Linked DNA regions of Homo sapiens: region 2 is reported to be linked to region 1. Evidence: microRNA targets listed by miRTarBase, many of them from high-throughput screens and not tested one by one. Region 1 holds a microRNA gene; the other region holds the end of a gene's coding sequence.
What was found. The annotated mature microRNA hsa-miR-526b-3p reads GAAAGUGCUUCCUUUUAGAGGC and lies in region 1 at 2,609-2,630, opposite strand. An mRNA with a match to its seed (bases 2 to 7 or 8) in the 3' UTR can be bound and repressed. Matches are read on the target gene's strand: a 7mer-m8 pairs with bases 2 to 8, a 7mer-A1 pairs with bases 2 to 7 and ends in A, and an 8mer does both.

Region 1 (4,197 bases):
CAAAAATACAGAACTTACCCAGGGGTGGTGGTGCCTGCCTGTAGACACTAATCCAGGAGGCTGAGGTGGCAGGTGGAGGTTGCAGTGAGCCAAGATCTCACCACTGCCCTCCAGCCTCAGCGACATAGCCAGGCCCTGTCTCATAAAAATTAAAACAAAATACACAAACAAAAACAACTCCAAAGTGATATAAGAGTGTTCTCTGTGTATAGAAGACTATTTTGTGTGTATGGAATTATACACAGAACATTGTGATGAAATATACTCATTTTTTTTTGAGACCCTGTATAAAAAAAAACCAAAGTTCCATATACTATATGCTCACATAAAGCATAATTCCCACATATTGGTGCTTTGACAGCACACACAAATGAATGGGGTGACAGAGATTTCCATAGCCCCCGCACATAGGTGACACCCAAATTCATAATGGGTCCCATATTCAAAATTAGGAAAAAAGGCTGAGTGCAGTGGCTCATACCTGTAATCCCAGCACTTCGGGAGGCCTACGTCGGCAAATCACCTGAGGTCAGGATTCAAGAATGGCCTGGCTAACATGGTGAAACTGTGTCTAAAATACATATATATATATAGCTGGTATGGGGGTACATGTCTGCAATCCCAGCTACTTGGAAGGCTGAGGTTGCAGTGAGCTGAGATCACACCACTGCAGTCCAGCCTGGGAGACACAGAGAGGCTCTTTCTCCAAAAAAAAAAAAAAGAGAATTGCTTGAGTCCAGGAGGCAGAGGTTGCAGTGAGCCAAGATCACACTAATGTACTCCATCTCGGGTGACAGAGCAAGACTGTCTCAAATAGTCAAAGACAGAAAAAAAGAACAGGTCTCGCTCTCTTCTTGATTGTGTATGGGCTCACTTAAGGTCAGGAGTTGGAGACTGGGCTGGCCAACATGTTGAAACCCTGTCTCTACAAAAAAAAAAAAAACGAACAAACAAAAAAAACACAAAAATTAGCCGGGCGTGGTGGTGTGCGCCTGTGATCCCAGCTACTCGGGAGGATGAGGCAGGAGAATTGCTTGAACGTGGGATTGTGCCACTGACCTCCAGCCTGATGGACGGAGTAAGACTCTGTTTCAAAAATCGATGAGTAAATAAATAAATAATAAAAATACAAAAATTAGCTGGGTATGGTGGCTCATGTCTGCGATCTCAGCTACTAGGGAGGCTGACTCAGGAGAGAATGGCTTGAATCTGGGAGGTGGAGGGTACAGGGAGCGAAGTTCCTGCCACTGCACTCCAGCCTGGGTCACAGAGCAAGACTCCATCTCAAAAAAGAGGACCGCTGGGCACAATGGCCCACGCCTGTAATCCCAGCACTTTGGGAGGCTGAGGTGGGTGGATCTTGAGGTCAGTAGTTTGAGACCAGCCTGGCCAACGTGGTGAAACCCTGTCTCTACTAAAAATACAAAAATTAGCTGGAAGTGGTGGCAGGCACCTGTAGTCCCAGCTACTTGGGAGGCTGGGGCAGAAGAATTGCTTGAACTCAGGAGGTGAGCTTGCACACAAGATCGCGCCATTGCACTCTCGTCTGGGTCACAGAGCAAGACTCCGCCTCAAAAAAAAAAAAAAAAAAAAGAGGACCGTTTGAGCCTAAAAGATCTACGTTGGAAGTGCTACCCTACTCCAGCCTGGGCAAGAGAGACTCTGTCTTAGAAAAAAAAACAAAATAAAAACAGAATCCCACCATCATCCAAGTCTGATGATAAGCATGCTCTGCAAATGTATTACCAAGATCAGCATCAACTTCACTGTTGCTTTCCTCAAACAGTAAACCTCTAAAAGGATGCACTTTCTTTTCTTTCAGACAACAGAAAGCGCTTCCCTCTAGAGGGTCACAGCATGGGATCTTCTTGCTCCAGCACCCTGGGTTTTTTGTAGAAATTTTCCTTGACCAGGTTAAAATAGAGACAAAAATAAAGACCTATTTATTGGCTCTGTTTGCATGTTTTCTGGAATCCAGAACATAGACCCCTAAAAAGACCATCTCCCGTTCCTTCCTACAAAGGCTCAGCAGGTTAGCCTTGTTCATCAAGGGGAAATCCTCCTGAGTTTTGTGTCCAGAAAGAAAAAGCAATGCCTACTATGCATACCTTATATTTAACCAAGAGAATTGGGCTGGATTTCTAGAGAACAGCAGTGGATTTTCAGCCAAGTGTTCACTTGATTTCCAGCACAGGGACACACAGTCCTGATTAGAGCAGTCAAAATGGAATCTACCATGTTGAAGAATATACATTGTTGCACACACAAACATCCTCCAGGATAGACTACAAGGGAGGCCTTAAAAGCTCCTAAAGAAACCCTGTCTCTACTAAAAATACAAAATTAGCCAGGCATGGTGGCGCAGTCCTATAATCCCAGCTACTTGGGAGGCTGAGGCAGAAGAATCACTTGAACCCGGGAGGCGGAGGTTGTGGTGAGCCAAGATTGTGCCACTGCACTTCAGCCTGGGCAACAGAGACCCAGTCTTAGATAAAAAAACAAAAGAAAAACAAAACCCCAACATCATCCAAGTCTGATTATAAGCGTGCTCTGCAAAGATATTACAAAGATCAGCATCAACTACAACGTTGCTTTTCTCAGACAGTAAGCCTCTAAAAGGAAGCACTTTCTCTTCTTTCAGACAACAGAAAGTGCTTCCCTCAAGAGGGTCACAGCCTGACATCTTCTTGCTCTGATGCCGTGGATTTTTTCCTGGAATTTTCTTTGACCAAGTTAAAATAGACACAAAAATAAAGATGCATTTATTGACCCTGTATGCATGTTTTATGGAATCCAGAATATAAAACTCTATAAGGACCATCTCCAGTTCCTTGCTTCAAAGAATCAGCAGGTTAGCCTTGTTCATCAAGGGGCAATCCTCCTGAGTTTTGTCCCCAAAGAGAAAAAGCAATGCCTACTACACGTACCTTTAACCGAGAAAATTGGGCAGGATTTCTGGAGAACAGCAATGGATTTTAAGCCAAGTGTTCACTCGAGTTCCAGTACAGGACCCACAGTCACGAAGGGAGCATCCAAAATGGAGTCTACGATGTTGAAGAATATACACTGTCATATGCACAAACACTCTCCAGAGTAGATCACAGGCTAGGATGTAAAAACTACTCAATAAAATTTGAGCAGAAATACACAAGTACAAGTGGGGCCCAGTGGCTCAGACCTCTAACTCCTCGAACTTTAGGAGGCCCAGGCAGGAGGATCACCTGCCTCAGGAGCTCGAGACCAGCCCCGGCAACATGGCGAGACCCCATGTGTACAAAAATTACAGAAGTTAGCCAGGTGTGGTGGTGCATGCCTGTAGAGACTAATTCAGCAGGCTTAGGTGGGAGGTGGAGGTTGCAGTAAGCCGAGATTGCACCACCACACTCCATCTTGGGTGACAGAGGCAGATATTGTCTCAGAAAAGAACCACACACACACGCACACACACGCACACGCACACACACCCTAGGTGATATCGGAGTATTCTCTGTGTTTAGAAGAGTATTTTGTGTGTACATAATATATAAGAATATAAAATGAAATATACATCATGTATTTTTGAGACCCTGTCTCAAAGAAAGTTCCAAATATTGCATGCTTATAGGAAGAATAATTCCTATACATAACTGCTTGCTTTGGAAGTACACATAAAAAAATTTAAATGACATAGAATATCCTGGCCACTGCACAAAGGCGACACCCAAGTCCATGCTGGTCCCATATTCACCTAATTATTTTTATTTTTATTTATTTATTTATTTAGAGACAGAGTCTCACACTGTTGCCCAGGCAGGAGTGTAACGGTGTGATCTCTGCTCGCTGTAACCTCCGCCTCCCAGATTCATGTGATTCTCCTGCCTCAGCCTCCCGAGTAGCTGGGATTACAGGTGAGTGCCACCACACCCGGCTAATTTTTGTATTTTTAGTAGAGACGGGGTTTCACCATGCTGGCCAGACTGGTCTCGAACAACTGACCTCAGGTGATCCTCCTGTCTCAGCCTCCCAAAGTGCTAGAATTACTGGTGGAAGTCACCATACCCAGACTAGTCCCATATTTAAAATTAGGAAAAAGCAAAAGATGCCCACACCTCAACAGCAATGTTCGAGTACATCTCAAATACATTGCACATCCCATCTGCAAGGGACGCTGAGGTCCCCTTCAATTCTACGTGAACCCACGTGAGGTTCTATAAACCA
Region 2 (4,197 bases), not on the chromosome of region 1:
TATGTTTTCTCAGTGTAATTCCTCTTTTTCTTGATAAAAAGACTTAAAAAAAAAAAAAAAACCCATCACTGATTTCACGTACATGTTTGTTTCTTCAGATTTTTCTTGGGCATAGATGGGCTGTTAGTTTAAAAAGAAATGGAAAACAAATCCTTTTGATGAAATCTGATAAATTCATCTTTGGAGACATTTCTGATAAAAATTAGGAAATATATTAGGGTTAAGAAGAGTTATCAAACATTAAATAGGTATGTGTGGCTGGGCACAATGGTTTGTGCCTGTAATCCCAACACTTGGGGAGGATGAGGCAGGCAGATCACTTGAGCTCAGGAGTTTGAGACCAGCCTGGGCAACACGGCAAAACCCTATTTCTAGAAAAATTAGCCAGGTGTGGTTGTGCGTATCTACAGTCCCAGCTACTCGGGAGGCTGAAGTGGGAGGATGGCTTGAGCCCAAGAGGCAGAGGTTGCCCTGAGCCGAGATTGTACCACTGCATTCCATCCTAGGTGATAGAGCCAGACCTTGTCTAACAAACAAAATGTGGATTATGGAGCGAGTATAAGAAATGTATCATCTATTTATTTTCCAGTGTAAAATCACCTTATTCTACAGAGAAGATTCCAGTATGTTGAACCAAAGCAGAGTCAGTGATGGGTATCAAGCCCTATTCTATTGAGAGCAGAGTTGAGTCAGGATGGCCACTGGGCACTGCAGTGAATTTCAGTGTTAGATGATGGGGAGTGGGGAACGTGAGTATTTAATTCAAAGTCATTGGTAAATACCTTTTAAAAGAAAGATGAATGTTACTCTATCTGCCTCATTTGAACTTAACTGCTGTAGTTGAGTTTGAAAACATTCTGAATTTGTGGAATATTAAAAGATTTTTCTTTTACCATTAGGCACCAGTCTGATGGTAAAACAAAAGTAGAGATCCTTACTGATCGCAAGACTTTTTCTCTCATAAAATAAAGCTTCTAACACATTGTATAACTGGTTTAGTGGAAAGTGCACTGAATTGCGAACAAAAGACCTAAGGCTTTATTATAGGCATTTATTAGATTGCACCCTGGGCAAGTCAGTTTGCTGAGTCAGTTTCCCAATGTGCACAACAGTGTTAAATACCTCACAGGCTTCTTGTGAGGAATAAAGATTATTGCCTTTAATCTGTAAGCAGTTGTGTGTGACAAATGCAAAGTACGCTGTGGTAGTTGTGACAATAATTATATAAATTATAATTCCTTAAATGACTATAATATATATGCCTCTAAATTTAAGCCACTTGAAAGGTATTCTAAAATTTAAAATTTTTCTTGTTTCCATAAAAAGAACATATGAAATGTTACACATAAACTTTTGATGACTGGGAGTTTTATTACAACTGTTTGTGCAATGGGGGCCAAACTGCTTGTTTGCCTTGCCAACTGGTATGGTTATTGGGTGCAGGGTTAACTATGCAGTTAATATATAGCCTATTATCTTTATTTGTACAACATCCTAATTGTAACATTTGGTGGGGCTGCTGGGGGCGTTGTGGCATTTCACCAAACAAAGGTGCTGTTTACCTAGAAGGTGTATGTTTATAAATGCAATTTTGGAGATGTAGTCTCACTTCCAAGATCCATTGTCTATGTTTTATATAGCAAGCGGTCAAGAGTTCACATAGGGAGGAATCCTTCCTGACGTTTACCAAGTATATTTGGATTCTGAGTTCAAATAGCAAGATATATTTGTTTCTAGAAGGTAAGTCTACATAATATTGCTAAAACCCCCTAAATTGTACCATTGAAAGATTACAACATATTACAGAATAGTAGTGTAAATAGTTTATTATTTGCTCATATGCCATGAAAAGACCAGAAAAGTAACATGAATTGCTTTTATAAAACATTCTAATATTGCTAAGAAGCAGGCCCATTAATAGACAAACAGAAAAGAACATGCCAACGTTGTCTATTTGTAGATTAATAAATAGGCAATTATTTTAATATACATATATGTCAGCATTGAACTTTGGAAAACAGCTGCTTTGTAGTGGAAGTCCAACTTGGTCAAATTGCTATTTTTAATCGAAGTGAATGTTGAGTCCACAGAAAGACAAAATCGTGGCATGTTCTTTTTAAAGTAAAGTACACATTTATGGGAATGTGCCCGCAGGTGGCAGTTTAATCTTTCTGTAAATAGGTACACTAAAGTGAAATGTGGTAGGTAACTTGTTCCCTAAACTGTCCTTATAGTTAAATATATATATTAAAAAAAACTATAAGTTAAAATAACATTCAGATTGTATAGCATAGGCTGATGCATTTTAAAACAATATTTACAATATTACCCAGAGGCTTAGGTGGGAATTAAAGAGAAGTGTAAAAACCATAAAAAACTGCACCGATTTTATAGCAAAATATCTGTACATTTAAAAAGATCATATAACTACACATCCAAGGAAAAGGGACCTTCACCAAGGGGTTCACATAAGCACAACATAAAATAGGAACTTCAGCGGTTAAATACTATACAATAAACTTTACAATTAATATATTGATGTACCAAGAAGATAAGCCAGAAGCAGAATGTATATTATGAAAAGTACAAATTTAGCTTCAGTCCAGTTTTTGACTTTGGAATGGATCAAGTGCCCTGCCAGAGAGGAAGGAAAATAACAGTGGCTTAGTGGGCCATCTAGTCCCATTACGTATTATTTAAGCTTAATACCATGTTAATACTTTTCAGCAACTTAAACTGCAATTCTCCATAAGTAGTCTGGGAAATGCATGAAAAACTTAGCCTCGATACACGATGCCAAGTGTATCTTCTTGAATTTATAAAAAATAAGAAAAAATTGCGATTGTCAGAGGAGAGTAAGGCCAGGTTCCTAACACTACTCTGCTAGCAGATGTAACCTTGAATGCTTGTTGATAGAGCTAGTAAACTTCCTTGCAAGGCACCAATTTCTGTTCTCAGAATTAATAATGGTCCTCAGAAATGCTAATGCTGATTACTGAGATGTTAATTTTAATGCTAATAAATACACTTGCATTATTTAAAAAGCTGCCTCTAGCTGAAGAACACAGTACTGCAAATAAGTCTTATACACTATATCCCCACATTCATACTAGTGAATGCCTCTCACAGAGCATCGTTCTCTAGCGCAGAAGTAGTAGAATGTGAAACTGGAAACAAAGGATTGAGTGACCTTTGTGCCACTGCAGTTGCATCCTGTTTGCACTTTGCCAGGGCCTGGTTATAGACAAAAGGAGTTTCATCATGTGACTTTCCTTCTTCCAAATTGCAAGTAAAATACAAAGTTGATGGATATGGCTAAAACAAAATTCCTTCGAAGACATCTCAGCAAAGGACCCACAGCAGATGCATTGATGTTATTTACAACATCAGGAAACCAGGTGGGCCATGATGGGACAATCACAATGGCAGGTAATGAGTTTAATAAGAACTTTACATTTTGGTTAAAAATAACATACTGGTGTAAAAAGATACCTAATCAAATCAAATCCTATTGCTTTGATTAATCTGAACAGGTACTTCCATTTTTAGGCACTTGTTAACAAGGGTTGAAAGGAGAGCTCATTTTAAAATTCTTCCGTGTTTGCTAAATCTGAGCCCTTAAGAATATTTTTGTGTGTGTTCAAGGCTGCAGTTAAATCGTAGCACATAAAGTTCATGTGGGCAGTTTCATTCACGCACACCCTGTATTCATGCAGGCCAGTCTCAGGTTCACATTGTTATTTCGGCACCATTAACAGAACGCAAGTTCTGATCATCAAAGCGCCGCCTGACGCTTCTCCTCACCGCATCGGCTCGTCTGTATGGTTGGTTTCTAAGATCTGTAAAGGGGAGAGTGCCAGTGAGAGAATAGCAACCTTTAATAGCATGTGTCTAAGCAGGACAAAGGCCAGCTGGCAGCCAATCAAAGCAGCTTGTGTAGAAAAGTCAGCTAATGGGCCCTTCAAACTCACTGAGCATTGAATCAAAGACATAAAACATTTGCCTTCAATATTTACAATCAAACAAAACAGGATGTAATACTGGTAGGATTCTAGGACTTTGAGAGAAAAATACATAGATTATTTCTGTCACTGGCCAGAGTCTAGCTGAAGTCTTATTTTGAAATGTTTCTTAAATTAGAAGCAGCTGTAGCTTAATTTTTTTGTTTTGTTTTTATTCTGGAAGCCTGAATGAATA

Region 2: miRTarBase lists FMNL2 as a target of hsa-miR-526b-3p. Seed matches in the 3' UTR shown: 7mer-A1 at 2,188-2,194.

Annotation. Positions count from the first base shown.
Region 1 is chr19:53,692,876-53,697,072 of GRCh38, reverse strand. MIR526B (microRNA 526b) reads right to left here and starts at 2,680; the gene lies at 2,598-2,680. It overlaps MIR519B (microRNA 519b), which reads right to left and starts at 1,860; the gene lies at 1,780-1,860. It overlaps LOC107985342 (a long non-coding RNA gene), which reads right to left. Exons shown (of 3, transcript XR_007067332.1): 3 at 2,451-3,044.
Region 2 is chr2:152,647,438-152,651,634 of GRCh38, reverse strand. FMNL2 (formin like 2) reads right to left here. Exons shown (of 26, transcript NM_052905.4): 26 at 1,809-3,839. The coding sequence ends at 3,730. Among named protein-coding and RNA genes, the nearest start is that of PRPF40A, 68 kb to the left of the region's middle.